Regions from separate parts of the Homo sapiens genome. Here region 1 is linked to region 2. Evidence: fine-mapped expression QTL. A gene starts in region 2. The other region holds a variant in brackets. All regions are shown on one strand. Distances are from middle to middle.

Region 1 (16,588 bases), 53 kb after region 2:
TTTTTTAAACTTTTCATTTTTAAAGAATGCTTTCTGTATTTGGATTATTAGTTTATTCTTAAATATATTGCATATATACTTACTCAATATGTGTTTTGTATTTGAATTTTATTTGTGGAGTCTTCTATAGCATTAAAATATTTATGAGTCAAAATTGTTTTTGTAATTCCTTTTAGGCCTTACTTTGGAAGACTTTTCATATTACAAGATTATTAAAGCATTCTTTTTTTCTTTTTTTTTTAGACAGAGTCTTGCTCTGTTGCCCAGGCTGGAGTGCAGTGGCACGATCTTGGCTCACTACAACTGCCACCTCCCAGGTTCAAGCAATTCCCCTGCCTCAGCCTCCTGGGTAGCTGGAATTACAGGTGCACACCACTAAGCCCAGCTCATTTTTGTATTTTTAGTAGATACAGGGTTTCACCATGTTGGTCAGGCTAGTCTTGAACTCCTGACCTCGTGATCTGCCCGCCTCCACCTCCAAAAGTGCTGTGATTATAGGCGTGAGCCACCACGCCCGGCCATTAAAGCATTCTTGAGTTATTTCTTCTAACATATTTATAAACTAATTAATTTTTTAGAATTTCTTTTTAGTTGTCTAATGTTACAGTCTATTTTAGAGTATGGTGTTAGGTAAAAAAATCTATATTTTGTTTACTCGGGTATAGTTAGTCTTTTTAGAAAGTCTTATTCTTTATTGATTTTCAGTGGCATCTGTTGCATGCATGCACACACGAACACACGAGTCTGTCAGCACCTTTTTAAAAATTGGCTAACTACAGTTTTATTATATATTAGTGTATTAGTCCATTCTCACACTGCTATAAAGAACTACCAAAGACTGTGTAATTTATAAAGAAAAGAGGTTTGATTGACTCACAGTTCAACTGGCTGTACAGGAGGCATGGCTGAGGAGGCTTCAGGAAACTTAAAATCACGGCAGAAGGGTGAAGGGGAAGCAAGCATGTCTTCACATGATGGCAGGAGAGAGAGAGTTGAAGGGGAAGTGCTACACACTTTCAAACAACCAGATCTCATGAGAACTCACTATCACAAGAACAGCAAGGGGGAAATTCGCCCTGTTCATACCAGATCCCTCCCCAACCATTGGGTATTACAATTCAACATGAGAATTGGGTGGGGACATAGAGCCAAACCGTATCAATTAGGTACACCAGGTATGTGAAGATCCCCCTCATTGATCTTGTTTGTCTGCCTTTCTTGGCTACAATTGTACATTTTCTTAACTTTGAAATAGTTTGGCTAGCACTGAAATGATCTGTTCCTTAAAGGTTATATAGAATTTTTTTGTAAATCAAACCGTCTAGGATTTGGCCACAATTTTTAGCAGTATCTCTTTGACAACTGTCTTTCTTCTATAGCAATTAATTTCTTTGAATTTTATGGAGTCAATTTGTATAAATTATATTGTCCAGAGAATAATCTATTTCATTATGTTTTTTTGCATAAAATTGGGGGAAGTAGTCTCTTATGATTCTTATCATTTCTCTGGTATTATTTCTTATTTTGTATATTTTGGTACCTTCTCCCTTTTTCCCCCTAGATTTGTTTCAGTATTTATCTGTTTTATTGTTTTCCCCAAAGACCAGATTCAGAACTTATTAGTTTTATCATTTTACCTTTTTTTTTCAAGTTTTAATTTCTACTTTTATATTTATTAGTTTATTCTTTCTGATTTCCTTAGGTTTAATTTAATAATTTTTTTAAAATTTTGGGATGTTAGTAAATTTATTTTTGTTTAATATACCTGTATTTAAGCTTATGAATTAGAGTCTGAGAATTGTTTTAGCAGTATGAGATATGATATATAGTGTTTATTATATTTATTATTATTACATAGACATTTTACACTTTCAATTTTCATTGTTTTCTTTGCCAGAAGAGTTATTTGAAGAGTCTTAAAATTTTCAGATGCTAGGAGCTTCTTAACCCCAGATTGATTAGTGATTTTTCCTTTTACTGTATTGTGATTAGTAACTATTATCTGTATTCTGGAATTTACTGGGGTTTTATCTTTGATGTCCAATGTGATCAAGTTTTTTTTTAAACCAATTTCTTAAACAGAAGGGATATTCTCTGATTTCACCTTAAAGTTAAATATATGGCAATTAAATCTATTTTATTATGTTACCCTATTTATATATTTTATATTTATACCTACTTTTTAATTCTCTTGTTATTCAGGCTTTGAGAAGGTTGGATAACAGTCAATTAATAGTATGTTTCCATCTGATTATCTTTATACCTATTTTAGAGTTTGCTTTACAAATGTGTACTATATGACACCGAGACGTTTATAATCATTTTATTTTTACTGTGAATTACACCATTTAGCATTATAGTGTTTTCTTCCTTGCTCCTTTCTTCCTTTTTATTTTTATTTGTCCTATTTGCTTTTGCCTATTCTTATGAACAGGCAACTTGATGAAACACTTGGTTATAGAGGGTTCTCTTTCCCATAGAATAGAGCAGAATCTGTCTTATGATTCAACTGAATGTTTTTCTTTCAATAGGTGAGTTTAGCTCTGCAACATCTCTGAGATAACATAAAAGTTTAGCATTAGTACTGTTATTTTATGTTTTCCAATTTATAGATTTTTGAAAAAAATTCACAAGATGTTCTGCTTTCTTAGCTTTGTGTTTGCTCTTTTTATTAGAAAAGTTTATATTTCTGTTATGATTATAAATGTAACTGTAGGAAAGTTCTTAATCCTCTTATTTCCTTAAAAATGATCTATTATTCCTTTCTGCAGATGTTTCCTCTTCATCCTCCCTTTTCTACCAGCTGACCTTAGCATTATAAAATAAATTACTTAGAATTCTCCTATGATTTATCAGTTTAAAATATCTTTTTGATCTTAGTTAGCAAAGCAGTCAGTTTATATAGTATATACTGCATACCATGTCCTTGCTCCCTCAGCTTTCATCTTTTTGAAAAATTTTATCATTCATATTTTCATATTGAAATTTCATAACGATTCTTAAATTGTTATGGCTCATATTACTTACGTTTTATTATAGCAACATAATCACATACATGATTGGAATTTAGTACCATGATTGATTTCAGTGTTTATTTCAGTTATTTCACTCAGGTTTTTACAATCACTTGGATGACTAAAATTTATCTTCTAGTAAATTCCTCAAGAAGATCCTATGAAAACAAGATTTTATATATTTGTAATATGTTCAAAATTTTGAACATTGTCCGTTGCCTTTATAATTAATGAGTTTGATTGAATTTAAAAATCTCATTTGTATTTTCTTTTTTCAAGGATTTCATGCACATTACTGCATCCAGTGGTGTATCTAGAGGGCAGTGGTGTCCACTGAATCTGACTGTTGAATGTTGCTGTGGAGAGATTTGACAACAGACTGATTCCTGCCTTAAAACAAGCTACTAGAAAACTTTTGCCTTGCTGTTCAAAATGTTTCAGTAATTTTACTAGGAAGTGTCTTAGTGTTGACTGTTTCTCTGGGGAACTATGTGACTTTCACTGAGTTTTTTTTTTTTTTCTTCATTTTGAGATAGGGTCTCCCTCTGTTCCCCAGGCTGGAGTTCAGTGGAGTGCAGCCTCAAACTCCTGGGCTCAAGCAATCCTCCTGGCTTAGCCTCTTGAATAGATGGAACTACAGGTGCTCACCACCACACCTGGCCGTATTTTTTTATTTTTTGTAGAGAGACAGGGTCTTGCTCTGTTGTCCAGGCTGATCTCAAATTCCTTGACCTCAAGCCATCCTCCTGTCTCAGCCTCCCAAATGGCTGGGATTACAGGCATAAGCCACCATGCCTAACGATCAATAAGTTTTGACTACAAAAAAGTCTTATATTTTATTTATTCTTTTCTGCTGTTTTGGTTTTCTTCTGTGCGGATTTCATTTTCTGTCTAATGTTTCTTAAATTTAAGATAATTTTTCTGGCTGGGCATGGTGGCTCACATCTGTAATCCCAGCACTTTGGGAGGCCAAGGTGGGCGGATCAGGTCGAAAGATTGAGACCATCCTGGCCAACGTGGTGAACCCCGTCTCTACTAAAAATACAAAAATTAGCTGGGCATGGTAGTGCATGCCTGTAGTCCCAGCTACTCGGGAGGCTGAGGCAGGAGAATCACTTGAACCCGGGAGGCGGAGGTTGCAGTGAGCTGAGATCGCACCATTGCATTCCAGCCTGGGTGACAGTGTGAGGCTCCGTCTCAAAAAAAAAAAAAAAAAAGATAATTTTTCCTCTCAATTTGGTTACTTCACTGTTAGAGTGGAGGGGAAAAAATGGCTAGTGGTGGATCAGATCAGCTCATCAACTGTAAAGACTGACTCTATGTCATTTACTTAAGGAAGTGAAAATTCATAGTAGAGTATGATGAGCTGGTAAAACCAGAGTTTCTGAATTTACCTCTGAAGATCTAGGCTACATATTTATTGCTGCAACAATCTATGTTAAGAATTTTCTTCTCAATATTCATGGCCAACATCTGGCTTCTAAAGGAAAGGCTTTTGGTCTTTTCAATCACTTGCTGATAGGGTGAGACTGCATTGTTACCCATAACCACATGACCTAATTTAGAATCAATCTTGGCATCCAGTCTTGCATTTCTAATCAAATTTACAATCCACCTTTCAGCTTCTTCTGGAGTCATGTTCAATTTATCTGCCAACATGTTAATGCTGATACACTGGTGGATGCGACAGAAAGTCTCAAATATGAAGAGACGGGCATGAATATTGAGAAGAAACTTAATTAGAATAGCAGGTCAGAGGCTCCTAACTGGGCAACTCAAGATTCTGGCTTCTACTGAAGAACCATAAAGAAAAGATGAAAAAAAAACTATTAAAGAAAGATGAAATAATAAAACTATTATATAAAGGGTGACTTACATTTTGGAAACAACATATTACGTATAAATTTTGAAGAATTGGAATAAAATTGATTCATTTAAAAAAAAGAATTTTCTGAGACTGGTGTTCTCAAGACAACATTTAGATTTAGTGTTCACACTAGTGGTCACTAATAGAGCTGTGTCAGATAGTGAAAGAATATCTACATTTTCCTGTAAAGAAGACTTTGTGCTTTTGTTCAGAAAAAAATCATAAGGCTAACAATTGTTAAGATGAGAAAGGAGGCTTGTCCACTATGTAACCGGAGTGACTAGTCTTTCCACATTGATTGTATGTGAACATAAGGCCTACTGTGTACAAAGAACACTCTGCTAGGTATTCTGGGAGAAGCAGAGAAACTAAGAGACTCAGTCCTAACCTTAAGGATTATATTTGTGTTGAGTGGAAAAAGTAGAGCCTGTTGAAGGATTTATAAGTTATCAAAACAATGCATTAGTAAGTCTCAGGCAAGAAAGGAGAAATGGAAAAGTTTAAGTCCTAAAAAAAATTACAAAACAGGGAGTGATATGATTTATATGGAGGGATGGCTGCTTGATGGAATAAATTTTGATCTATGTCTTTGAGAGAGATGATGAACCTAGCTAGGCAATGAGTTATCCCAAGGGGGCACAGCACAATAGTGTGAGATACAGGGAAAGATGAAAGGACAGTGCAAGTTGTATTTTGTGTGAGGCAGGAGATTGGCTGGATTAAAAAAGTATTTGTAGGACTTGATATTCAAGAAACATCTCCTTATTGCTTTTTTTTCTCTGTATAAAGCCACTGGGGGCTTTATACAGTCAGATAGACACTGAGATGGTCAGAGAGAAGTTAGACATGCCACTGCCCTCAAGGAACCTCCATTCTAAATAATATAGAATGCATCCACATAGGAGACAGTAGCTGAAGTTTGAATAAACTGGTGTATGAGAAAGAATAAAGTGGTAGTATTGCAAGGACAGGTAGGGTTTGAATCTGTAAAATGAGATGAAATAATACTTACTTTGCAGGGCTGTTAGAATAAAATGAAATAACATATGCAAAGTGCTTAACACTTAATGGGCAATTGATATGTGTTTGTCATCTTTCCTTCCTTCCCCACCTCTCAATTCTGACATAACTTGTATATAAAAAGGAGAGATCCTTGAAAGATGCACAGAAGTGAAATTTTCAGAAGAGGTGTGACTGGCCTTGGGCCTTCATTGTGGGGCTTAATGAACTGAGGAACATTATGAACAAAGAGGTGGGAATACAGAACATGCTTTTGGGAGCTTCGTTGAAGTTGAGTGGGAGAAGAGATTTGAAAGGGGGACTTGAAACCTAGAGGTTGGATGGTACTTTTGTATTAGACTGGTGCAAATGTAATTGCGGTTGTTGTCATTACTTTCAATAATAAAAACCCCAATTACTTTTGCACCAACCTAATAGCATTTTTCTTCTGCCCAGATTCCACTTTGTATACTATAATAACTGATGGTTTATGTGTCACCCTGCATCAGCTGTTTTGGTAAAGAGGAGTCATGAGTTGATTAACTTTGAATTCTCCATAATAAACAGCACAGCACTTTACACATAGTAAGGTCTTCAATACATATTTATAAAGCAGGTTAATCAAACAAATGCTTGGGTACGTCAGGAACAAGGGCTGTATGAATGTGACATTTTATGCTAATGTATCAAGCTATGTATTTAATAATAAAATGTGGAAACACATGTTGTAGAGTGGAATAGTGGGGTGCCTTGGAGAGAGCCAGATTACAGTTTTCTCCCTGGCTTAGTGGCTATGGACTTTGTGAACTTGGTCAAGTTCTTTTGCAGTATGTGCTTAAACCCAAGACCATTTCTTAGCTGCCTGCTCTTCTGGCCTTAATTTCCTCATCTATTCAATAGCTAGTACCTTATAGAGTTGTGAGCATTAAGTGAAAACTAGCTCAGTGCCTGGCACATAATGGGTGCTCACATAAATATTATTGATAATCACAATAATAGTTATTTTTATTTTTCCTAATTGAAATATTGATATGAAAATATTTTAAGTGACACATTTACTCTTGTTCTATCCAATTATCAAATAAAATTCTAAATAATGTACACTGCTATTCTGTAATATTTTATTGTTGACTCTGTTGTGTTAAAAACATCTTATAATGTTAGTTTCGTTTTTGGAGATAAAAGACCAATTCTCTGCAGCGGGAGTTTAAGGAGTGTTTTGTTAGTGTCTGCCTTGGGCTCTTCCAGGCCTTCTGCAAACTTGATTTCCTTTGATCCTCACAGCAGTTCTGAAAGTTTTGGTCATAGTTTTTTATCCTCATTTTTGCAACTGAAGAAAATTAAGGGTCAAGTGACAAGGTTAGTGAGTGGCAAAGTCATTTATAATAATTAATGAGAAAAAAGAATAGGCTGAAGTTAAATTTGGAATCAGTGTCTAAAATAACTAGGAAGTAAGATAAAGCACAGTCAATATGAGCACCTGCAAAGGATTACAGAAAAATGAGATTCCACCTGTCTTAAGTATGCAGGGTGCTATCTTGTTCAGTCTGCTGACTATGAAAAGTATCGGTAAGCTTCATTTTTCAAAGACATTTGCCTTTTTGATAACATAGTCACAAAATGCCAAATTTTGCTCTTCATAATTTTCCCTGAAAATTTAGAAACTTAGTTTTCCAGTGTTCTGAAGGGATGACCTATCACACACACGTAAACAGCTAGTCATCTATTAAGTGTTTTTAAGCCCTTTTAGGGCATGTATATATTGCACTGTAATCTATACAGGACCTGGATACTGTTTTGAATTGAAGCGTTCATTTTATACATAGTGTTTAACAGGCTTTATGGTGTGATACAAAACAGCATTTCTAACTTCCCCATCATCTAGACTTCAAACCTCAGAGTAAACTTTGAGACCTTGACCCTGTGTTCACATCAGTTTTCAAGTTCTGCATATTCCTCACCTCTATTCACTTTTCAAAGCAAGTGCCGTTTCCTTCTTGCAGCCTGCCCTGATCTTACCCCTATTGTGCAGTTGCTTCTACCTTGGTGCACCCTTGATACTTAGCATTTAATCACTGTTAGTCTCAACTTACCACTGAATGGGATATTTTAACTTAAAAATTAATATCTCTATTCCACTATGAGACAGTGACCTTAACTGTCTTAATAATAGTGTGTTCCTACTGCCTGATACAGGGTTTGGCAAATAGTACTTTGCTTGATAATTTAGTGAAATGAATTACTTTCATTATGATGGAACCCCAGTAAAATTTTTGAGACCAGAGATAACACTTTTTTTTTTTTTTTTTTTTTTTTTAGATGGAGTCTTGCTCTGTCACCCAGGCTGGAGTGCAGTGGCGCGATCTCGGCTCACTGCAACCTCCACCTCCCGGGTTCAAGCAATTCTCCTGCCTCTCAGCCTTCCGAGTAGCTGGGACTACAGGCACGTGCCACCATGCCTGGCTAATTTTTTGTATTTTTAGTAGAGGCAGGGTTTCACAGTGTTAGCCAGGATGCAGAGATAACACTTTGTAATATTTGAAGGCTAAATTGAGAAAAGAAGACAGATAAGGCCAAATATTATGGGTGATATTCTTGAAATTATTTGTTACCATGGTCTTTGTTATTGTTGGCTTGCTGAAAAGTAGCTCAAGGTTAGAACAGAATCTTTTACTTCACAAATGCTAACCCCCCATCGCTGTATTAGTTGGTATTT[G/C]CTTTCTTGGTAATTTTCTTTTAAAAGATCATGATAAACCTAACTGGATAAGGATCAAATTAATTAATGCCTCCAAAATAGATCTGTGACTTTTTATATTAAGCGCATTACTGCCACTCCCAACTACCATTCTGAGGGATTTTTGGTTTTGAAATTCAAAGCAGGGATCCTTGGAGTTGTAGTGTCTCTTTTTTCTTTTGAGGAATATGAGCTCACCATGCATATTAAACTCACTTATGTATAAAGCAGTAAAGTGAACACTGCCTAGTAGCAGTCAAGATAACGAAATGGAAAGTTTGTGTCTGTGTTGCTGAGTATCTTCCATTTTGCCTTGTTACTACAACAACCACATTGTAATCTGGAAATTACCAGTTCTTCTCCCGCTGAAGGCAGTGGGTCAGGATTGAAGAGCATTGAGCAGTTCAGTGAAGCTTGTCCAGATGTCAGTCCAGAAGAGATTTTACAATTGTAAAAGCTCAGATTAGTTTTAACGTTGCAATCCTTTTTGTCATTTTTGAGTGTTTCTTTCATTTTTTATTTAGACTTCATTGAAATTTTTCTTGTTAGTTATAGATGTTTTCCATTGTAAACCTCCTCCAGCCTCCCTCCCCTAGAAACATTAGAATAAACTTTTCAGTTTTTATGAGAAGAAATGCAAAATGGTCATTAAAATTTTGAGAAAGTTTTGGCAGTGGTTATTTTTTAAATGCTTTTAATGGAATGAAATATGCTACATCACACACATTTGTGCTTTTTAAAAACATAAGTATTTGAGATTGATATATTGTAGTTTAATCCCCTCTTTGTATTTAATACTATTATTTAGGTTTATTGTTAAAATAATATTTAACAGTGTGTGATATCAAGGATAGCTGGAAGGCTTATAATACAAAAATTTTAATGTTTAGGAAATGAAAGATATTAATATATATTAAAACTCTTTTATTATACCATAGAAATTAACACTTTGTGCCAATTCTAACCTCAGGATTATTTTTTGTGCCTTGTGTATGTTCCAGTTGATCTCTTCATCAATTTTATGAATAGCATAAGTAAATTTAGTTCATTAATATATTTATATACTTTAAATAGACCAATGTAAACAGATTCTTATCTGCCATATGTTGAAATGCTTTAGTAAAGACATAACTGCCTAGTCAACAAAGATGGCATTGAATTGCACTGTTTTGGAAAAAAAGTTGAGCGAACTAGATGCCTGTTAATCTGGTTCTTTAAATATCATAAACAAAAGTATCAGAATGTGTTTCCAAGGACAAAGGCGGGGTTTTCCGGGCTTTGATTGGTTGCTGCCTTGTCCTGTCCCACAGCCATCCTTAATTGGCTTTGGGTAGATTGGAATCACATAAGCAGGGTGACATTTATTACTTTCCTAGTTGTTTCATTGCACTGAGCCCTGAGATTCCCAAGGAGTAACCATAAAAGATTTCTTTTATTTTGTCCATGACCTACGAGACAGGATCATTCTAAGAAGAGCAGGCATGAGTTTGAGTGCAAGAAGAGTCACTCTGCCTGCAATAACGCCAATAATTCTACAGAAAAGGGTATGTGACTTCTTTATCCTTTTTTTCTTTAATTTTTCTTGCTGCTTTTTTTCCCCTGTTACTGTGTGTTTATTAATACATAGGAAGCTTTACTTACATACCCTTGAAAGAGCCTATAATTCATTAAAGTTGTAGGTAAAATTAAAGGACATATTATTGGAATTGAACTAGGAAAAATAATACTGCGCTAGGACATCGCTATAGTTAAAAACTTTCACCTAAAAGAAGTTTGATCTCGATTTCAGGTCACTGTGATTTAGAGACTGTATTGAAACTTTTCCTTTTTTTTCTTTCTACTGTAACTTCAAGCCTCTTTGTTTTTAGCTCAGTAGGAAATCTGCTGTTATGTCTTATATTTGTTTACTAAGGAATAGTTTCTTTGTTTCACCATAATTCATAATATATCAATCTCTTCATTGTTGAATAGACTATACAATTATTTTACTGTTTAAACATGTGTTACCAGTTTATTCTCAGGTTTCTACCCATTTCTATTGAGCTTCTGCGTATTTGCTTAAGAAAAACTTTCCATTAAATTCCCCTGTGAAAGGGCTTTCTGTTAATTATTAATGCAGTCAATCCTGTGTATGAAAATATTTTATTTATTAGTTTTTTGTAAAGATTATTTTTATGTCTCACTTACAGCATTGCATTTTACAAGGTGGTATATGCAACCATGTCATGTAGTCATAGTAAACTTTTCTTGTAACTCTCCAAAATAAGAACATTGCACTGGACTTCTTAAAGAATCAAATCTGTCGCATTGAGAAGGAAGGCACTAAAACTCAGTTTTGGCAATATGCTTACCAAATGGTTTTGGTGACACTAGAAACTGTAGTGTTTATTTTTGAACTCAACTTTTAATAGTTAACTGTTAACTATCAGTGCATTCCATTAAGTCAAAGGTCATGTTGCAATTTATTTGAAACATGGCAAATCTAACAGTTAAAGTGGCTATAGTTTTTAAAAACGAAGTGCCTCTTTACTATTTTTAATTTTTAGATTTTCAGCTTATTTTCTTATCCAGTCAACCATTTATTTACTGAGAATATTTTATTTGGCATTGGAACAGCTATATGATAATTTTGCCAACATGAGTTCTTTATCTTTCTTGAGGCCTTTTGCTAATTGTAAGCAAATTTAATTAAAAATATTTTGCTTTGGGTTTTAACTTTTATTTGGAATTGGACTTAGCAGTGCATTAATAATGACAATATAGGTTCCTGGACTCACTGAGGATGTGAAAAGGCATATTAACATTTATCAAGTCTATGTTCTCATGTTTGAATTCTTCTTTATCCGGTTAATATTGCAGTTTAGATTGACTAAGAAACTTCTATCATATGGTTTGTTTTTGATGACATGTTGGTATGATGGAAAATGTACTATCTGGACTCTCCATTTACTAGCCCTGTGACTTTGGGCAAATCCAGTAAACTCTTGGAGTCTTTACTTCCTCATCTGTATAACAAACTGAGGAGTTTTCAGTAAATAATATCTTCAGTCTTATTTGTGTCTATAATTCTGTGAACCAAATATTTTATATTTTCATGGTTATAGTAAAATATGTAAATTATTTTTATTATTTTAGAATTATTATAAAACATTAGGAAAGAATGCTGTAATTTTCAAGGAGTTTGAACAATTAGCCTAGGGGAAATTGGTTATGGGAAAACTTGGCTAGAAAAATAACTTCTAGCACTGTTTGCCAAGTAGGAAAACAAGATTACTCTGGAAAGCGGTGGTTATTATTGATGTTACATCTGAGCTGCCAATGGTCACCTCATTGTGATTTATCGTGGTATTTTAATAATAAGCTTCTTGTCAAGTTTCTGTTATAATATTTATAAAAGTCAAAATTCCCTAGACTCAAGTCTATGCTATTTTTTTCAGTGAGTGCACATATTTTGGTGTTTATATAATTTAGCACACCATTATGTGCTTCTCCTGATATTTTAACTCTGAAAATACCCATTTGATTGTTCTGAAGATCTTAATGTCTTTTATTTTAGGAGTTGGGTATTTTCTGATTTAAAAATCATCCATCTGCCCTGGTCACACCATGATTAATTTTTTCTTCCAATATAAGAAGTTATTTCATACTTGTAATTAATTTATTTTCCATATATGCCATAATTTTAAATGATCTTATAAATCAGTACAAGCATTTCTCAGAGAATTTGGGGAGCAACTTATTTTCCCATGAAGGCAGGTGCTTTTTCCACAGGTTTGGTGTAAAGTTCACTCATCCTGAATGAGTGGCCCTTGACAAATAATTTATCAAATGGAATCCTAATCATTTAAAAGGCTGAGAGCATTCTGAAAATGCTCCGTAGCAATAGGGAGTAATTTTCTTATCAGGTAGTGTGTCTGATCCAAGTGGCTGTAAGTGTCTCTGGTAGTGCTTAGGAACTTGAATTTTAAACATGGCCCTTCATGTGGTATAGATCTATTTTGTAGCAGAGAAAGTACGCCTTGATCTTTGAGAAGAAAGGTATTTTGGTAGATTCTCTATCAAGTAAATTGGAAAGAAAATGTTCACTTCCAAATTCTATTAGGATCTGATTTCTCTGATTTAAGTGAATTAAGGTTCTGGTGAAGAACGTTCCTCATGTGCTTCAGAAACGATCACATCCTCAGCAAACATTGTGAATGAATCTTTTACCTCATCGCATTTTTCTCAGATCATCACTAGGTTGTAGCTTTTTACTTTTTCAAATGAGAAGACTGAGTCTCTTGGGTGTTGAGTGACTTATGCAAGGTCACCCAGAAGGTCAGTGGCAGAGCTAGAAATAGAATCTAGATCTTGTGACTTCCAGTATGCTTCTCCTAGATACGTGTTACCTCCTGAAATTAATATGGAAATGAAATTGCCTTATGGTGGGTATAATTGCCATTCAAGTCTGGAATTAGCTTAGGCAAATCCTTTCATCTTCCTCTGCACCTCCACCAACTCCCTTATGCTCTAGCATAGAAAACATTTTATTCAGAAAGCAATTGTAAGCAGCCAAGTGTGTGTGTGTGTGTGTGTGTGTGAGTGTGTGATAGAAAGACAGTTTATACCTGGAACTCCAGATTGGCACATTACATAAAGAAAACATTTTAAGGTCCCGGAGAGTTAACATAAGGCTCAAGTATTGTAAAGTATAAACTAAGTATAATATAAAATTCACATTCTTTTATGGAAACACTACCAGGTCAGAAGGCCTTACATCCATATCCTGATTCGGTGGGTCAGGCATATTTCATGTCTCTATCAGATTAACATTTTTTGTTTGTTTGTTTATTTGTTTGTTTTTTGAGATTGAGTCTTGCTCTGTCACCCAGGCTGGAGTGCAGTGGCGCCATCTTGGCTCACTGCAACCTCTGCCTCCTGGGTTCGAACGATTCTCCTGCCTCAGCCTCCTCAGTAGCTGGGACTACAGGCGTGTGCCACCACACCTAGCTAAATTTTTGTATTTTTACTAGAGAAGGGGTTTCACCATGTTAGCCATGATGGTCTCCATCTCCTGACCTTGTGATCTGCCCACCTCGGCCTCCCAAAGTGCTGGGATTACAGACATGAGCCACCGTGCCCAGCCAACATTGTTTTTAAGTTATGTTTGCAAACATTTTTGCATTCTTCATCCATGCTACAATTACAGGAGATGTTCATAAGCACACAAGATCCTGAAGTATCTTCTGAAATCTCAGAGAAAAAAAGGGATACTTTTAATGACATATATTTTTTTAAGATTCAAATCCTTTTGAAAATTGTAAATTCATGAGTGTAATACGGAGCAATGCCATTTATGAGAAGATCTAATTCCCCATTCATATAAGAGAATAGTTCATGTTATAATCATTTCTTTCCTCATACAATTAGACTAATTGCTATGATTTTCTAAAAGTGATTTAGTGGAGGAAAGAACACATCATCACATCACTATTTTTCCCAGAATCTTTTAAACATGCACAAAATCAGTCCAGGCTTCCTTAGCATTTGCCATGCTCCAGGGCCTGCCTGGCCCTCAGCCTGCCCAGCTTCCCTTGAAGCCTTCACTGCAGCATATCGTTTGCCTCCTTGGGCTTCAAACGGCTTTTAAAATCTGTATATCTGCACTTCTGCTCCCAGAATTGTGCTCTGCAGCCTATAGACAACACCAGGCTCATTTGCTTTCCCAAATGCTGTCTATTGCCTAAGTGTCGGCTCAGGCTGTGTTCTCATCCTAAAGCCTTCTAAGACTCTTTTGCTTCACCTTTATCTTCAAGGTGCCTTGATTTAGTATCAGTGGACCCACCTTTATTACTCATTTGTCAATTCAACCACTACAGCCCTGTAACATCAATTTTATTATTACCTTTTAAATAATATTTAAGTCATATTGCCGTCCATAGGTGTGTACAATATGACTTTCAGTTGCTCTATCTTGTTTATTTTTGTATATCTTGGACCACCATTTGGTTTCCAAAAGTTGTCTTTTGATTTTTGGTCTTACAACTAGATCTTAGTATTTTAAAGGAAGAAATCTTTAAAATGTTTTGTCATTTATGGGCAGAATGTAATTTCATGTAACCAAAAAACACAAAGGACTGTGGATTAAGGAGGAAAAGAGATTTATTTTTCTTTCACTTTACAAGGATAAGTCCAAAGCTAATGTTGCAGCCCCACAATGTCCTCAGGCAACTGAACTCCTTCTCGCTTTCTATTATTTCTTCTCTAGTGTGGGTCCTTTTTCCTTTTATGGAAAGATAAATGTAAATTTCCAGTCATCCTGTTTACAGTCTTTGCACAGAGAATGTGAAGGACCAAGAACAGGCTCGTGAGTTTTATACCAGTTAACGTGCCATTGTGGAGTAACCAGGAGTTTCTGCTTACATCTTGTTGGCCAACTCTGGATACAAGAGGAGTCAGGAAATGCGGGCCTGGAGTGTAGCACACTGCCCTCCTCACCAGAATCAGGATTCATCAGGAAGGAAGAGAGGAAGGGTGGATATTGGTGGGTAACTCGCCATCTCCTCTACAAGTGCCTTGGACATATTAGACATTTAGTAAATATTTGTCTGGGATTTTTGTTATTCTGGTGCCAGATATGAAATGTAGCTATGCTTTTTGAGCAAATAATATTCTATTACTTGTATAGGGATTGTAGGTATGGTAATAAGTGGGGAGAGAGCAGATTTCCTGTGCAGAAGAGGGTCGTGGAAGGCCATGGATGGTGGTCTTAGTTTAGATGGTGGACTTGCTTGGAAGGTGATAGTGAAGTGGTAGTGGGCATTGTTACTGCTTTTTATCCAGAGTTCTCATTCTTGCTAAACCTTGATATTTCTCCTGCCCTTTTTACTTTTGTACAGAGTAACTTAGTTGCATACTCAACCAGGAAGGGTGTCACACAGATGAATGGTATTTGCATTTTAGTGAAATGTTTCTTTTCCTGAGAAGTGAGTTTTTAGGAAGTGTGTTGTAGCAGATTATATGTATGCTTTAGAGCCAGGAAACCCAGAGTTTGAGTTCAGCTTCATCACTCTCCAGTGCCCTGGCTTTGGGAGCATTCTTTCAAAACCCTCTGAGAATCAGTTTCTCTATCTTGGGGATGATGATGCTTCCTCACAGAACAGTTGTGAGGATTCAACAGAATAAATATTTAGAAGCATTTCACACATAGTAGAAGTCTAACAAATATGAATTTCCCTTTTTCCCCACCTGTGAAATGGCATGTTTTACTAGTTTCATAAACAGTTTAAATTTCCCTGTGACTGAGAATTTAAACTTTCCGTGCCCTATTCTCCTAAAGTGGTTATCCAAAGATTTCATAGTAGAAAGTGAGTCAAACAAAAAGTGGTTTTTCTTCATAGATTTCAGCCAGGGAGAGAAAGACAATATATCTTTCAAATGCTTGCTCCCACTGCTTTCCTTTCTGTAACTTTAGAAGGTCTCTAATTTGAATTAAAAAAAATGAATCCAACTATATACGCTGATGAATATATTTTTTAAAATCTTTGGGAACGTAGATTTAAATACAAGATAGGTGGTTAATTACTCCTCCTTTCAGTGTCCTAAGGAGTATTAGACGGGGACTTCTGGGTTGTATATTTGAAAGGGATAAAAGTAGGTCTAGTATTAAGACGTTGCTTCAGTAGGCAAGTGGTGTTACTATTAATAGAACCTTAGCTGTATGATGGTGAGAACTTGTTACTTTTGATCATCATTGAACCCCAATGCCCAGCACATAGAAGGCACAAAGTTGGTATCTAATTACCAATTAGTTGGATAAAAACAATTTTTGTAAAGGCAAGATTGAGCTCTTTAGATACTGACCTGCTATTTCCTTCCTAATATTTGTCTCTGTTGCTTTTCTTTAATTTTTGCCAAGTTTCTCATCTTTTGGGATGAAAAGCTGTAATGCTCAGGCCTTTTCATTACCTTTATCTAGCTCCAACTTGCTGCAGT
Region 2 (16,588 bases):
CATTAGCCATCTGGAAAATGCATATCAAAACCATAATGAGATACCAGTTGGCACCCACTGGAATGGCTATAATAAAAAAGACAGATCATAACAAGTGTTAGTTAGGATGTGGAGAAACTGGATCCTTCATAGATTGCTGATGGGAAAGTAGCATGGTGCAAATACTTTGGAAAACATTCTGGTAGTCCTCAAATTATTAAATGTAGAGATATCACATCACCCAGCAATTCTAAAGAGAAATCAAAACATATGTCCAAACAAATACCTGTACACAAATCTTCATTGTGTCAGTATTCACAATAGCCAAAAAGTGGAAACAATCAAATGTCCATCAATCGAATGAATAAAAAATGTAAATACATATAACTTTATTCTTCACTAAAAATATAATAAAGTACGGATACATGATTCAATATGTATGCACCTTAAAAACATATGCAAAGTGCAAAAATCCATTCATAAAAAATACACATATTGTATGATTCCTTTTATATGAAATATCTAGAATAAGCAAATCTATAGAGACAGGAAGTAAATTAATGGTTACCTGGGACTGGGTAGGTTGGAGTAAAATAGAGAGTGATTGCTAATAGAAAGTGATTGAGTGATAAAATTTTAATATAACATCTCTCAGGAACTAATAGAATAAACAAAAAATCAGTAGGAATAAGGAATTTAAACAGCATGGTTAACACATTTGTCTTAATTGACCTACACATACATAAGTGAAGAAATTTGAGAAAACCTCTTCTTCTATATCATACATAGAATATTATTAAAAATTGACCATAGTCTGGGCCATAAAGTAAGTTTCAAGAAATATCAAAGGACTGAAATCACATAAAGTATAGTCTGTGATAATAAGGTAGTTAAATTAAATATTTTAAAGAATCGGCCGGGCGCGGTGGCTCATGCCTGTAATCCCAGCACTTTGGGAGGCCGAGGCGGGTGGATCATGAGGTCAGGAGATCGAGACCATCCTGGCTAACAAGGTGAAACCCCGTCTCTACTAAAAATACAAAAAATTAGCCGGGCGCGGTGGCGGGCGCCTGTAGTCCCAGCTACTCGGGAGGCTGAGGCAGGAGAATGGCGTGAACCCGGGAAGCGGAGCTTGCAGTGAGCTGAGATTGCGCCACTGCAGTCCGCAGTCCGGCCTGGGCGACAGAGCGAGACTCCGTCTCAAAAAAAAAAAAAAAAAAAAGAATCAAAATCGACAGCTAGGAGAATATTGCAATGGAAAGTATAAAATACTTTGAACTGAATACTAATACAAATCAATATGCTAAAACTTCAAGGATACAGTTAAAAATCATACCTGGAGGGAAATGAATGTCTTTAAATGTAAATATTAGAAAATAAGGAAAGCTAAACATCAATAAGCTATAAGCATCCATGTAAAATATTTAGAATATCAACAAAAAATAATCACAAATAAAACCAGAAAAAGAAGGAGGGAAATAAGAAAGAAAAAGATAGAGGTTGGGAGCAGTGGCTCACGCTTATAATCCCAGCACTTTGGGAGGCTGAGGTGGGTGGATTGCCTGAGGTCAGGAGTTCAAGACCAGCCTGGCCAACATGGTGAAACCCCATCTCTATTAAAAGTACAAAAAATTAACTGGGCATGATGGTAGGTGCCTGTAATCCCAGCTACTGGGGAGGCTGAAGCAGGAGAATTGCTTGAACCAGAGAGGCAGAAGTTGCAGTGAGCTGAAATCGTGCCACTGCACTCCAGCCTGGGTGACAGAGTGAGACTCCATCTCAGAAAAAAAAAAAAGTATAGAAATTAACGAAATAAAACACAAATGAAAAATAAGGTTATTCTTGAAAAGCTTGAAAACTTGATAAACTCTGGTGAATATAATCAAGAAAAAAGGAGAGAAAGCACTAATATCCAATGTCAGGAATGGGCATAGGGAAGCACAGTAAATCCTTCAGATATTAAAAAGTTTAAAATTTAGATGAAAGAGATACATTCCTAGAAAATACTACTTATCAAAATTGACAGTAGAAAAAATCAAATTTACAAGAAAAAAACAACCCCATCAAAAAATGGGCAAAGGATATGAACAGACATTTCTCAAAAGAAGACATTTATGCAGCCAAAAGACATATGAAAAAATGCTCATCAACATTGGCCATCAGAGAAATGCAAATCAAAACCACAATGAGATACCATCTCACACCAGTTAGAATGGCGATCATTAAAAAGTCAGGAAACAACAGGTGCTGGAGAGGATGTGGAGAAATAGGAACACTTTCACACTGTTGGTGGGACCGTAAACTAGTTCAACCATTGTGGAAGTCAGTGTGGCGATTCCTCAGGGATCTAGAACTAGAAATACCATTTGACACAGCAATCCTGTCACTGGGTATATACCCAAAGGATTATAAATCACACTGCTATAAATACACATGCACATGTACGTTTATTGAGGCACTATTTACAATAGCAAAGACTTGGAACAAAGCCAAATGTCCAACAATGATAGACTGGATTAAGAAAATGTGGCACATATACACCATGGAATACTATGCAGCCATAAAAAATGATGAGTTCATGTCCTTTGTAGGGACATGGATGAAGGTGGAAACCATCATTCTCAGCAAACTATCACAAGGACAAAAAACCAAACACCGCATGTTCTCACTCATAGGTGGGAATTGAACAATGAGAACACATGGACACAGGAAGGGGAACATCACACACTGGGGCCTGTTGTAGGGTGACGGGGGGGAGGGATAGCATTAGGAGATACACCTAATGTTAAATGACGAGTTAATGGGTGCAGCACACCAACATGGCACATGTATACATATGTAACTAACCTGCAGGTTGTGCACATGTACCCTAAAACTTAAAGTATAATAATAATAATAAAAAAGAAGAGATGTGAACAGAAAAGAGGGAGAAATACTTAGGAAGTAGAATTGCTCAGGCTTAGGACTGATTGTGTTAGGCTGGTGCAAAAGTACTTGTGGTAATTGAAAAAACCACAATTACTTTTGCACCAACCTAATATCTGTAGGTGAGAGGTGATTGGCCAGCCTTTTGATGCTGCATTTGCATCAGCACCACCCTTACCTGGGCCAACTGGCTGTGCTCAGGGTGAGGGTCATGGGTTCAAAACACAGCAGCAAAGGAGCTCCTCAGTAGGACACATTGGCTGTGCCAGTCTGAATAGCCCCTGACTCTGGTTCCGGAGGGTGAGCAGGAAGCAGAAGACCACAGGAATAAATGTCTGCAGACACTTCTCTGCATCAAGAACAAGGGAGGACTTTCATGAGGGCCAGTAAGAGTCTTCTTGAGGATGGAAGGGGTAGCAGGATAGATGCATGTTCCCCAGCAGATTCTTGCCTTTCCTCGAGATGGTGTGGATAAGTGGGAAAGACCTATTGTTCCCCAAAGTGATCTTGTCTGCCGTAAGTGTTTCTTTATGGAGAGCCACTTGGTAAGGTGAGGCAATTAGCTTTCCTGTCACCCATGTCCTAATCTCTAGCAGCTCCCTGGGAGGAAATGAGAGTCACACTGCAATCTCAGACAAGGGCATCCGGCATCCTAACACTCAGGTAAGAACCCCCGCTCCCGGTGGTTATTCCCCCTGGACTAGCCCATGAAAGCTGTTTTTCAGATCTACAAGAGTACCTCTATTTTACCTTTATTATTCTTCTGTGAAAGGAAGGTTTCACTCTGAATAAAGCTATGCTATCCATCAAAAAAAAAAAAGAAAAAATAAGAATTTGGAATAGTCCTATAACTATTAAAGATATTGAATCATTTATTAAAAACTTTTCCACAAAGAAAACGACCACAAAGAAAAAGTCTGATGGCTTAACAAGTAAATTTTATTAACTATTAAGGAAGAAATAACACAGTTTATATAAGAAATAATCTGTATAAACTCTTTAAAGAAAGAAAAAGAGGGAAAACTCTCCACTTCTAACAAGGCCATCATTACCCTATACAAACATCTCAGAAGAATATTATGAGAAAGAAAAATTCAGGCCAATCTCACTCATGAACATAGGTGCAAAAATGTTAAACAAAATATTAGCAATCTTATTAAATATATGTATAGATATGAGTAGGGTTTATCCTATGAATGTACACTTAGTTTACCATTAAAAAAGTCAACACAGTTAGGCCGGGCTCAGTGGCTCACGTCTGTAATGCCAGCACTTTGGGAGGCCGAGGCGGGCGGATCACGAGGTCAGGAGACCAAGACCATCCTGGCTAACACGGTGAAACCCCATCTCTACTAAAAATAGAAAAATTTAGCTGGGACTACAGGCAGGCGCCTGTAGTCTCAGCTACTTGGGAGGCTGAGGCAGGAGAATGGCATGAACCTGGGAGGCGGAGCTTCTATGAGCAGAGATTGAACCACTGCACTCCAGCCTGGGCGACAGAGCAAGACTCCATCTAAAAAAAAAAAAAAAGTCATCATAACTACTTTTTAATACATAGAATGATGGAGAAAAACCATATGATCAACTCTAGAGGCAGAAAAGTTGATTTAATAGTATTCATTCATAATAAAAATTCTTAGCAAACAAAGAAAATGAGGGAACCCTTCTCCTCTCTTATCTGATAAAGGATATCTGTGATAAAGATATGATATCATATTTAATACCCATCCTTTTGAGATCAGAACTAAGACTAAGATCTGTGCTGTTGACTATCTTGAAGAATCCATCTTGAAGAACAGAATGAAAAGCCCTGCTTCATTGAATATTAAGACTTGTTATAAATCATAATGATTACGGCAATGTGATATTGACATAAATATTGGTAAATAAACTAGAGGAATAGAAGAGGGAGCCCAGAGCAGACCTATGGGTAGATCAGCAATTGAATTATGACTAAGGAGCCACTGCAAAGTTGTGAGGATAGGATAATCTTTTCTATGAGTGAGGCTGTGATATCACTTATTCATATTAATAAAAACAACCTATATACCTTCACACCATAAGATAAAAACAGAACTTAAAAATAACTCATAAGTGAGTAAGAAAAAGACAAACAACTCATCATAAGAATGGGCAAGATATTTGAATTGGTCCATCAAAAGAGAAATGTCCTGGCCAGGCTCTGGGGCTCACGCCTATAATTCTAACACTTTGGGAACTCAAGGAGGGAGGATTGTTTGAGCCCAGGAGGTTGAGGTTGCAGTGAGCTGAGCCATGATTGTGTCACTGCTCTCCAGCCTGGGCAACAGAATGAGACTCCAACTCACAAAAAAGAAAAACAAAAAGAGGATGTCCAAATGGCAACTCATCATAGAAAAAATTGCTCAAACTCATTAGTCATAAAGAAAAGTTGAATTCCACAATGAGATACTGCTATGCACTCACCAGAATGTCTATCTACTGTGACAATTCTAATATACTAATTGTCAAGGATGTGAAGAACTGGGGAAGCTTATGCATTCCTGGTAGTGATAAAATCAATACAAACAATTTGGGAAACTGCGATATCTACTAAAACCGAACATACATATATATATACCATGACCTCACAATGCCACTCCTACATGTATACCTCCCAGAAGTGCATGCCTATGCATACCAAGGGAAGTGTGCAAAATGTGCATTGTGGCAGTATTAATAATAGTCAAAGCTGGAAACAGCCTAGATATCTTTCTGCAGTAAAATGGATCAGTAAATTGTGGTATTACATACAATAGAAAAACAAAAAGACTACAGCTACTTGCAACTGCATGGAAGAATATTACAAACGTAATATTAAGGGAACCAAGTCAAACATAAAAGGGCGAAACAGTATGATTCCATTTATATAAAGAGCAAATCTAGAAAACCTAATCTATTTTGTTTAGGGATGGATAGTTAGGTGTAAACTATAAACAAAAAGAAGGATTTGATTATTCTGAACATTTGAATTGGGCTGGGAGTGGTGTCTGAAGCCTGTAATCTCAGTACTTCGGAAGGCTGGAGAAGGAGGATTGCTTGAGCCCAGGAGTTTGAGACCAACTTGGGCAACATGATGAGACCTCATCTCTACTAAAAGTAAAGAGCTGAATGTGGTGGCATGTGCCTGTGGTCTCAGCTATTTGGAAGGCTGAGGTGGCTGGATTGCTTGAGCCTGGGATGTCAAGGCTGCAGTGAGCTATGTTCCTGCCACTGCACTCCAGCCTGGGCAATAGAGACACTGCAAAATAAAAGGAAAGAAAGAAAGAAAGGAAGGAAGGAAGAGAGGAAGAAAGGAAGAGAAAGAGGGGGAGAGAGAGAGAGAGAAAGAAAAGCAAGCAAGCAAGCAAGCAAGAAAGAAACTAACTTTTAATTGAAGGGAGGGGCAAAAGAGGAGTTTCCGGAAGGCTGACAAGAATCTGTTTCATGGCCTGACATCAGTATTTTCCTTGTGATAAGCCATTATACATTGTTGTTTATGAACTTCTTTTCTGTATGTGTGTTATCTTTCACAATACAAAGGGTTAAGAAATTTAATTGATGAGCAGAGAGAGAGAGAGGAATGCAATGAGGACACATTTTCCAGGAGGGGTAGGAAGACTGGGATTCCTGAGGAAAGACAGGAAAGGGAGGGACAAAGAGTAAAAAAGGCCCTCAGAGGAAAGGGGCCAGGGGACAAGCTGCTTCTCTGCAATTTTACAGGCCCAAGTCCAAAAGGCGGACAGCCACCCAGGGGACTGATATTGCTCTTTGATACCCACATATCTGCTTTATTGTTTCAGAAATCTGTCCATTATGAGGATGAAAATTTCTCTTTTAAAACTTCTCTTTCATAGAAAAATACCTCTATTTTCTTAGGCTGTAGCAGGTCTGACAGGATTCTGTACCTTTTATACTGCATAGTTCTTTATTTAGAATCATTTCTTGTAAACCACTTGGATAAAAAAACCTAGTTCCTTTATTGACTTGCTTCAAAAATGTGAATGAGCTAATTCTAAAAACTCTTGGTACAGATTCTCAAGGTACTACTGGGAGTAAATTTAACATTTAGTGCCAATCTACAAGAAAAAATTATTTAGTTTCTCATTCTCAGAGACCTGTTCCTTTTCTTTTTGCCCCTGGTAATCTCAAGGATTACAATGTCTACCCATTGGGGTCAGAGGACGAGCATAAAGCCTGCAAATTGACCCTCCTTGGATTTCCACTAAATAGGAGAATGCTTGGAAAGGGGAGACAAAATAGAGATATATTTCCAGCCAAGGAATACTCTTTCTTGAGGTTAAGAAATTATGGCAATTATGCTAGGATGTGGAGCAGGATGCACCATTGGGGAATAGCATTTCCAGTGATTCCAAAGACATATACAGATTCCACCTATCCCTTTCCCCAAGAAAAAAAAAAAATCAAAAGTGTGCTCTCTTTCTCTCTCTCTCTCTCTCTCTGTCCCACCCCCGCCGTGTGTGTGTGTGTGTGTGTGTGTGTGTGTGAGAGAGAGAGAGGAGGTGAGGAGGAGAGATAGAGAGAGAGTGTTGTTGGGAGTGGAGACAGTGTAAACTTCAGCCACTAATTCATGTGCTCAACTATATTATTCTTAGAAGAAGTGACTGCCTGCAAGAGTTCTGGATAAAATTGGGATAATGATGTTAATGATTAAAGTTTACTTATTTCTTTGTTTCTTTAGTTCAAGTTGTCTGCAACTACATACCTCATTTGTTTTTTGCTGGAATAACCTCAGTATATCTGTATGCTTTTAAATTAAATTCACTTAAACTCAGGCATAGAATCTGTAATTCAGAGAACTGGATGTGAGTGAGGGCTTTGTCTGGCACATGTGTCAATAAATGTTAGTTATCACCATGATTAGTATTATTATTTTCTTCCTGAGAAAGAGAATCACCATTTTGTCCTAGCTTAGCCAAAGTATTGTATAAACTGCAGTGTCCCCAACCTTTTTGGCACCAGGGACCGGCTTCATGGAAGAAAATTTTTCCACGGATGGGGTGGGGGTGATGGTTTCGGGATGAAACTGTTGCACCTCAGATCATCAGGCATTTGTTAGATTCTCATAAGGAGCAACCTAGATCCCTGGCAGGCATAGTTCACCAATAGGGTTCGCTCTCTTATGAGAATCTAATGCCCAGCTGATCTGACAGGGGACAGAGCTCTTGCGGTAATGCTGGTTCACCAGCCGCTCACCTCCTGCTGTGCGGCCTGGTTTCTCACAGTCCATGGACTGGTATGGTGTGGTCCAGGGCCCAGGGGTTGGGGACCCCTGGTATAAAAGATCCCAGAGATCACACCCGCTGTGACCCAGGTCACTTCTGGGCCTTAATTTTGACATTAGGAAAATAAAGAACTTGGATTCCCTGAACTGTGACTCAAGGATTTTCTGTCTTCACGGAGTGCCCCAGGTTTCCTCACAGGTTGGGAATTAGTGACCCCTGGGTTCTCCAGTGGTCGGTGCCTCGGTGGGAGAGAATGCACTGAGATGGGGGAGGGGAGCTGCTGCTTTCTTCTGGAGGCAGTGTTTACCTTTCCCTGGGCAGAGGTTGTTGAAATTAAGAAAACCTGGTAAAGCAGATGCCAGGGACAGATATTACCTAATTTGGTCAAAGAACAAAGACCCTGTGAAACATTTGGAAATCCTCAACGGTGCATAGGGACGGGCACACTTACTGGAAGAGCAGAAACAGGATCACCCAGCATTTCAGAGTAGGGTTGCTGCATCTCAGAGGGTGAGCATAATAATGTCATTACTATTTCGAACAGTCTGGGTTTTTGAGAAGGAAGCTTCTGGGTTGGAATATTGACTCCACCAGCTACTAGTGCTATGTTACTAGTGCAAGGTACTCGATGGCTTTGAGCCCCAGTTTCCTTTTGTGTAAAATGAGATAAACATCTAATTTATGGAGCTGTTGAGAGGATGGAATAGGTAGCGTAAGGCAACCTGGAATTCATTAATGTAAGCTTCTCTCATTACCATAAAACTAATAGTCTTTCTAATTCCAGACACCTTCAGGTTTACTCATGCTTTACTGAGAATTCTCAAAATCTCAGTAGTTTTCTATAATGATTGGACTCCTTGCTCCCTATCAACCCCCCAATCTTTGGCTGCGGAGTGGATGGAAGAAGAGGCACGTGGGGAAGGACTGGGGCAAACCCTCTGGTGTCCTGGCCTCCTGGCCCGGTGGGGACTGTCATGGCGGCCCAGCAACAGCTTAGGTGATCTCAGATGGCAGAGCAGAAAGAATGCAAGGGTATGAGGGTCAGGGCTGCGCGGACCCCTATCCCGCCTGCGGTCCTCCCGGCAAGCCCAGCGGGAGCGCCCGCTCGGCTGGGTCCCCGCCTCCAGCGGCGCCGGGGCCGCCCAGACCCTGGGCTCAGCCTCGCGCCCCGGTGCCCACCTGAGGAGGCAGCGGTCCCGGCCTCGCGTCCCGGATGGGACGGCGCGGGAGCAATGCCAGTGGCCCCGAGCGCCCCGGGCCACGCGCGGGGCCGGCCAGCCGCTCTCGCGCCCTCCCCGCCCCCTCCGCGCCTTGCCTCGCCGCCCGCGGCCCCCACCCACCGGCCGCTCCTCCCCTCTCCCCACCCTCCTCCTCCGCCCCCTCCCCTCCCCCGCCGCCTCGCAGATAGCTCGGCCGCGCGTCTCAGCCGCCGGGGCCCCGAGCGCAGGCGGCGAGGCCACCACACCTGCAGAGCGCTCGGGCTGCCTAGCCGGCACCTCGCCTCCCGCCGCGCAAACCCCTTCTCCCCACGCGCCGAGTCTCCCATGACGCCCGAGCCCCCCGGCCGGCGACAATGACCACTTCCCTGCAAGATGGGCAGAGCGCCGCGAGCAGGGCGGCTGCCCGGGATTCGCCGCTGGCCGCCCAGGTGTGTGGCGCTGCCCAGGGGAGGGGCGACGCCCACGACCTGGCGCCGGCCCCCTGGCTGCACGCGCGAGCGCTCCTGCCCCTTCCGGACGGGACCCGCGGCTGTGCTGCAGACAGGTAGGCAACCCTGGAGGGCGCGGGGGAGTGTCCTGGCTGGGCAGCCGGCGAGGGGGTGAGGAGGCGGTCCTAGGGGGTGAGCCATGTGCCCAGAGCTGGGCCAAGTTTGTAAAAGTCTCTGAAGACAATCCCCTTTGAGCTGGCTCCTACCGGATCAGCAGGACATTGCGATCTCACAGCGCCTTATAAATAGCATCACCGTTTCATTGAGAGCTCTCATCTCTCTCGCCTCTGCCCATCGGTGGTGAAACTAGGAGCTCAGGCTGCAGGCTGATCACCTTCTGTTCCTTCGTGGCCATGCATTTTCACAAAGTAAACTCTATTTTATTTTATATATTTTAAAAAAATCGTAGCATAAATGTATTCACCTCCCACATAGAGTCTTACAGCGACCCTGTAGAAGCAAAGCATGGATTGACATTCGAGCAGTCTTGCTGTTCGGCAGGAAAGAATAGAGGCTTTAAAGGGTTTCCCAATCTCCATAGCATTCAGCACTAAGTGCCTTTAGAGTTGCACATACTTTCGGAAAGAAAAAGGGTTACAGCAATACAAAAATCTATAGTCCTTTATATTCATACATTTAAATGTTACTTTTTTTTTCCTGATTTTCAAAGCGCTCCAACTTCAGTGAAGTTAAAATTACTCTCCAGTGGACTATAGTACATTTATACTAGCAAGTTCTATTAACTTACCGCCTCAAAACACTGCCTTGCTGTTTAATATCTATAAGCGCTTGAAAAATCAACAGACTGTGTGTGGGCAACATTGTGAATGAAATTTGAAGTGAGATGAACCACAGCTATAATTAATAAATCATAACTTCCAAAAGTGATTAGTAAAATATCATAAGGATGAATGCACTAAATGCAACTTAGAGACTGTCAATATCATGGATGCATAACAATGTATGACTTCTCAGGTGATGTTTGGATTAGTAATTGTATAGTCTATTTTTCTGTTTCAGGAAAATTATCAAAAGTGATGGAGTTTCTATGCCTGGTGATTTAAAGGCAAGAGAGAGAGAAGGCGGTGGGGGGGGGAGGGGTGGTGGGAGGGGAGAGAGAGAGAGAGAGAGAGAGACAGAAAGAGAGGAACTATAGGAGATTTGTTTGTATCTAATTAACATACTGTATTTTGACCCATAGAAAGTACATCACAGACCTTTTCTATATACTTTATATAATATGAGCCTTGTCACAGAGTGGTACATGTTCGCCTTAGCACACTTTTTATTCCTGACAGCAATTATATTTTACATTCTGTTTTATGTAAATTACATCCTATGTTCTCTTACTGTAGGAGAAAAAAGAAAGATCTTGATGTTCCGGAAATGCCATCTATTCCAAACCCTTTTCCTGAGCTATGCTGTTCTCCATTTACATCTGTGTTGTCAGCAGACCTATTTCCCAAAGCAAATTCAAGGAAAAAACAGGTATGCATTTTTAAATTTTAAATTTCAAAAATCTTAGGAGTTCTGAATCCATACAGTCTTTAAGGTGTTCCGTAATTTACAGTATTAACAAAGGATTAGCATGGGCTCTGTTAAATAACTCTGTTGACTGACATGGTCCTTTGGCATTATTTTCCATTTAGGGCCTTATTCTTCTAAGCCGTATAATGGGAATGTTAAAACCTACCTCCGAGGGTCTTGGGATGGATTAAAACAGAGAATATATATAAAGTGCAGTGGTTGAGAACAATAATCATTCACCAGATAGGTAGAAGAGATGATCATTTTTAAGCCAGGAATTGGGCAGAGGCTGGGACGGGGTGGGCAGTAGTAGTGGGGTGAGAAGGGGATTGACTGATTCCTTTAATACTTTCTTTAATTTTTCACATTTTCAACCCAAGCCAACCTCATTTACCTAAGGAAAGTGATATAGTGATGCTGTGGCAAAAGGTATTTAGAATTTAGGGTCAACATGTCTTCATTTCAGTGGATTCCTCAGTTTGGAGGCTCTGGCTGCAGAAGATAGATGACTCGTAGTGATAATTAGAAGACTAAGGACCATATCTTTATGATTTTCTCCTTTTCTAGTTTGGGATTGACTTAAGCAAATTAGATTTTAAGGACCAAGCAACTAACAGAAAATACATCATGGCTGTACATTTGGAGGGGAAAAAAATAGTGTATCATAGAATAATTCATCTCTTGTCATATACTTTCTCCCAGTTTTGACCCAGCAAAACAAAGAGAAGCCTCACTAGACAAAATGCACCTTATTCTTACAAGGGTGGAAACAATACATTGAAATAGCCAGGTACTTGAAATGGGAGAAGGATAATGAACAGCGAGGACAAGACAGTTGGCCATTTTTCCGCGTCTATTGCTCTCTTTCTTATTTCTGCACCTTTATTGCTTCTAATGGGTTCAACTATGTGTGTTTATATTTTTAGGAATGGAGGAAATACCTTAGGAAGCAGATGAATTATTGATCATATACAGAAATGATAGAGACAGTAGGAAATATGTTTGATGGAAGCCCTGTGTATATATTTTTGGGGGGAGGGGCTTGAAGTCACTTGGTACACAGGTTTTTGGGTAAGGATTGGAGAAAATGGGAATAAATTTTTCTAGAAGCAGAACTATGTTCTGAATTGGCATCTTTGAAAGGGGGAATAAACCCTTAAGTGGGTGGGACTGTAACTTTGTTTGGGGAGACAAAGAGGAGACTCTCTTGAGACCTTTATTATCAGGATGAGGTTTAAAGTCAGATCCCAAGGAAAAAACAGCCCTAGTGAAACTTCCAAGCTCTTTGAGAGTTGACTTTTTGGTTTGGATAGAAAATGGAAGTAAGGATAATAGATTTGACTGTGTGCCATGGTAGTGGAAAAAAAAAAAAGAGGCCGGGTGCGGTGGCTCACGCCTGTAATCCCAGTAATCCCAGCACTTTGGGAGGCTGAGGCGGGCAGATCACGAAGTCTGAAGATTGAGACCATCCTGTCCAACATGGTAAAACCCCGTCTCCACTAAAAATACAAAAATTAGCTGGGTGTGGTGGCCTGCACCTGTAGTCCCAGCTACTCGGGAGGCGGAGGCAGGAGAATCGCTTGAACCCAGGAGGCGGAGGCTGCAGTGAGCTGAGATTGTGCCCCTGCACTCCACTCTGAACGACAGAGCGAGAATCTGTCCCCCGCTGACACTACCCCCCCCCCCCCAAAAAAAAGATTCTGGCTTGTCCTTGAGCCAGAGTAAGAAAAGGAAATGTCTGATGATGACATAATGGTCATCTGGAAGAATTTAATAGGTAGTTCCCAAATTACTAAGGGCCTGCTATGTTTCTCACAAATCCTAGGCAGTAAGGACCCTAGCTAAGCAACAATACCATGCAAGATATATTTAAAAGATGGGGCTTTGATTTGGGGTTGTGGTAGCGGGTGGAGCCTGAACCAGAAGGAAAGTAAAGGGAAGGATATCTGGGCTGACTCACTTTAATGCTATGAATGGACACTTGCAGAATGCCTGTGTCTGAGAGATTTGTTGATGATGCAGGGTTTGTTTTGAATAGAAAGTGAGAAGAGGTGTTGGTATGCTTATGTTAGTATAGGGGACAAAAGAGAAAGAATGGGTAAAGTGCCAGGGTTAAGGCAGGATGTGCCCTAAGTGTGGATAGTCATCAGACTAGAGTAAGACGTCTTAGAGATTGATGACATTTCCTCAGATCAGGTTTAAACTGGAAAATGGGCAAAAAAAAAATAGCAAACTGGAAATGGGGAAAAGGTGATATTGTTATTGACCCCAATAGGTTTCCTGCTCTGGCCTTGTATCCTGTGTCCACAATGACCTTCTCAAAGAACACTGTACCCACACACACACCTGTACTGTTCCCTGAGCAGAGAGTCCCCGCCTGATTTTTAAAGATCCATCCCAGAGGGCTGTCCCTACCTTTGAAGGGCCCTTCTTGCTGATCTCTTCCTTGGCCCAATGGTTGAGATCTCTATGAAGACAAGGGTACCCCAAAGTTGAGGAGGAGGGAGGCTGCTTTTTACTTTATTTTATGCTTCCTTTTTCCCCCACCTAGACTTTGCATTTAGAACTGATCCTTTTGCTTTAGTTTCTTTATACACACTCAGTTCTTTGAAATGAGGAAGGTTTTGAGAATAGATGACTCTATGTAAGTGAGTCCCCCAACTCAGTAGCTTTGCAACACATATTACCCTTTTACAAGATGCTGTTTTTGGCCCAGTTTATCTGTAACCTTCAGTTGAGATGATGTAAGTGACTATGCGATATGTTCTACTGAGTATTATTTATGGTTGAAATATTATAGGAGAAGATGTCTCTTTACTTTATATTCTCTCTCATTTGTCCTGTTTAACCATTCCAGTCATTTTAGTGATTCTTTTCTCTCCACAGAAAAAGTGAAGAAAATAATTGTACTTGTTATTTACAAATCAATGACCAGAAAATTTGAGAGAATCCAGACTAAAAATGTTAAATTTCATCTGGCCTTTCAAAATCACAGTCAAAAACCATCTTACAAGTCATAAATTTTGTTTACTATTTGAGATGCCTACATAATGCATGAGTGGTAAAGTGCATTGAAGCCACAAATGGGATATGTTTTATCACTTTTTGCAAATAAAATGTCCCAAAGTGTACAATACTGTAGGCTTTCAGTACCATTATTTTTAAATGAAAGCTAGAGTGAGAGAGAATCCATATTCTTTTTTTTTTTTTTTTTTTTTTTTTGAGACGGAGTCTCGCTCTGTCGCCCAGGCTGGAGTGCAGTGGCACAATCTCGGCTTACTGCAAGCTCTGCCTCCTGGGTTCATGCCATTCTCCTGCCTCAGCCTCCCGAGTAGCTGGGACTAGAGGTGCCTGCCACCACGCCCAGCTAATTTTTTTTGTATTTTTAGTAGAGACAGGGTTTTACCGTGTTAGCCAGGATGATCTCCATCTCCTGACCTCATGATCCACCCGCCTTGGCCTCCCAAAGTGCTGGGATTACAGGCATGAGCCCCTGTGCCCCGCGAGAATTCATATTCTTTATTCCCTTTCCCTCTTTTTATAATGATGGCCAGATTTCCTAGGCATCTTTCTTTGTGTTTACTAATAAAGCAAATTTAAAGTATACCTTCCCTTACATACATGGTCCAGAAAAGTTACTTATATTAAAAGTGACTTCCATTATGAACTTAATCTCTTTTTTCTAATTTATGATTTAAATTTATAAGGAAATCATCTGTTAGTAATGAACCCTAAACACCTATTGTTTGAAGGAAAGCAAAGAGTTAGAAATCTTTATTTAGCTCTTGCAGCAGAATCAGTTCTTGTCTTTTTTGTTGACCCCTAGGTAATTTTTGTGCTTGGACATAGCCTGTGTAGTAGCTCTGGTTAATTGCTTCCCAGGACTATGTTGTACAACTAAGTAAGAATAAAGCCTCTGAAGGCTTTAGAGATTTAAAAAATGCTATGAAAACCAGTGTCATGAAATGTTTGAGTTGGATGGGATTTTTCAGATCTTCTATTCCAATATTCTTCTTTAGTGATACGTAAATTGAGTTTAAGGAATGCTATGTGGCACAGCCAGCACCTGAAATCTGGATTTCTTGAGGCTTTGACAGTCCCTTTTTAGGAAGGTACAATTTCTAAAGAAAGCAAGGACTGTAAATAAGAGTAGTATAATAATACATGTGTACCAGTGTTGTTAGTTACAACTCTCCTCATAACACAAGAAGAACAGGGGAGACAAACGCCATTTGTTAATATTCATCTAAGGACCTGGAATTCCTCTTTTTATTTCTTCCCGAAATGTAACTACGTTTTTTCTTCTAGCTTTCTTCTCCATCTTCTCCCTAAAATTGGTCTGAGAAATCTATCAAATATTTGATTTTATTATCAAATAAGATTTATTAGTATTATTAATAACCAGCTTTTGTGTGTGGTTTACGGTCCACAGGATATTATTTCATGGGAACACAAGAAAATGAGTATGTCACCTGCATTTTAAGATTACAAAAAGAGTATGCAAAAACTGGAAGGGATTTGCCCATGCTTCCACAGTTTAAATAAAGGGAGATCAAAAAGAGTATCATGTCTCAATGTGTCCTGTCCCTTACCACACTGTTTCTAGTGTATTCTTTATTAAATTAAGCCTTTTTTTGTATGTCTCAGAAAAATAAAAATTTATCTCAAATAATTAAAAAATTAGTTTTCCATATGCTCGGCCTTTTATTTCTTTTTTCTCTACCATGTCACGGACTTTCAAAGGATAAGCAGATCTCTGTCCCCAAATTAAAGGGCCTCTTATATCATTCCTTTGTGATGCCAGTAATTACCCCACTTTGGACATGCTGAACTTGTATGTGTGGTCCTATAGGAATCTTGTGTGGCTGCTACATTAACTGAAATTTCATATACTTATTTTTCTAGTATACATAGAAGTAAAAGAAGAGAAACCCATGTACATATTGTAGTTTTTCCAGACTCAGCAATTATCAAGATTTTGCCTCATTTACTCCATCTATTTCTTTTTTAAAAATTTTATTTTCTTTGCTAAAGTATTTTGAAGTATATCCTGGACACCCCATCATTGCATCTCTACGTAGTTTTGTATTCATCTCTGAAAAATGAATTTTCTTTTATATCCCAAATGCCATTATTCCCTAACATAAATAACAGCAATTCCTTGATATCGTCTAAAACCATTCATAATTGAATTTTCTCAGTTGGA

Which allele goes with the higher level. Positions count from the first base shown, and alleles are read on the strand shown. Sizes are in standard deviations (SD) of each study's normalised expression.
For the expression in spleen of the gene that starts at base 9,548 in region 2, allele G in region 1 goes with a lower level than allele C (moderate effect, 0.60 SD a copy in GTEx).

What was found. PIP is the estimated chance that this variant, and not a neighbour inherited with it, causes the effect.
Region 1: its variant is fine-mapped to the expression of GRB14 in spleen (GTEx, PIP above 0.99).

Annotation. Positions count from the first base shown.
Region 1 is chr2:164,561,885-164,578,472 of GRCh38, reverse strand. The region is part of intron 2 of GRB14 (growth factor receptor bound protein 14); the gene reads left to right. It also overlaps the pseudogene EIF3EP3. Among named protein-coding and RNA genes, the nearest start is that of GRB14, 51 kb to the left of the region's middle. The variant G/C (reference allele first, on the strand shown) is at 8,597.
Region 2 is chr2:164,614,442-164,631,029 of GRCh38, reverse strand. GRB14 (growth factor receptor bound protein 14) reads left to right here and starts at 9,548. Exons shown (of 14, transcript NM_004490.3): 1 at 9,548-9,911; 2 at 11,211-11,343. The coding sequence starts at 9,721.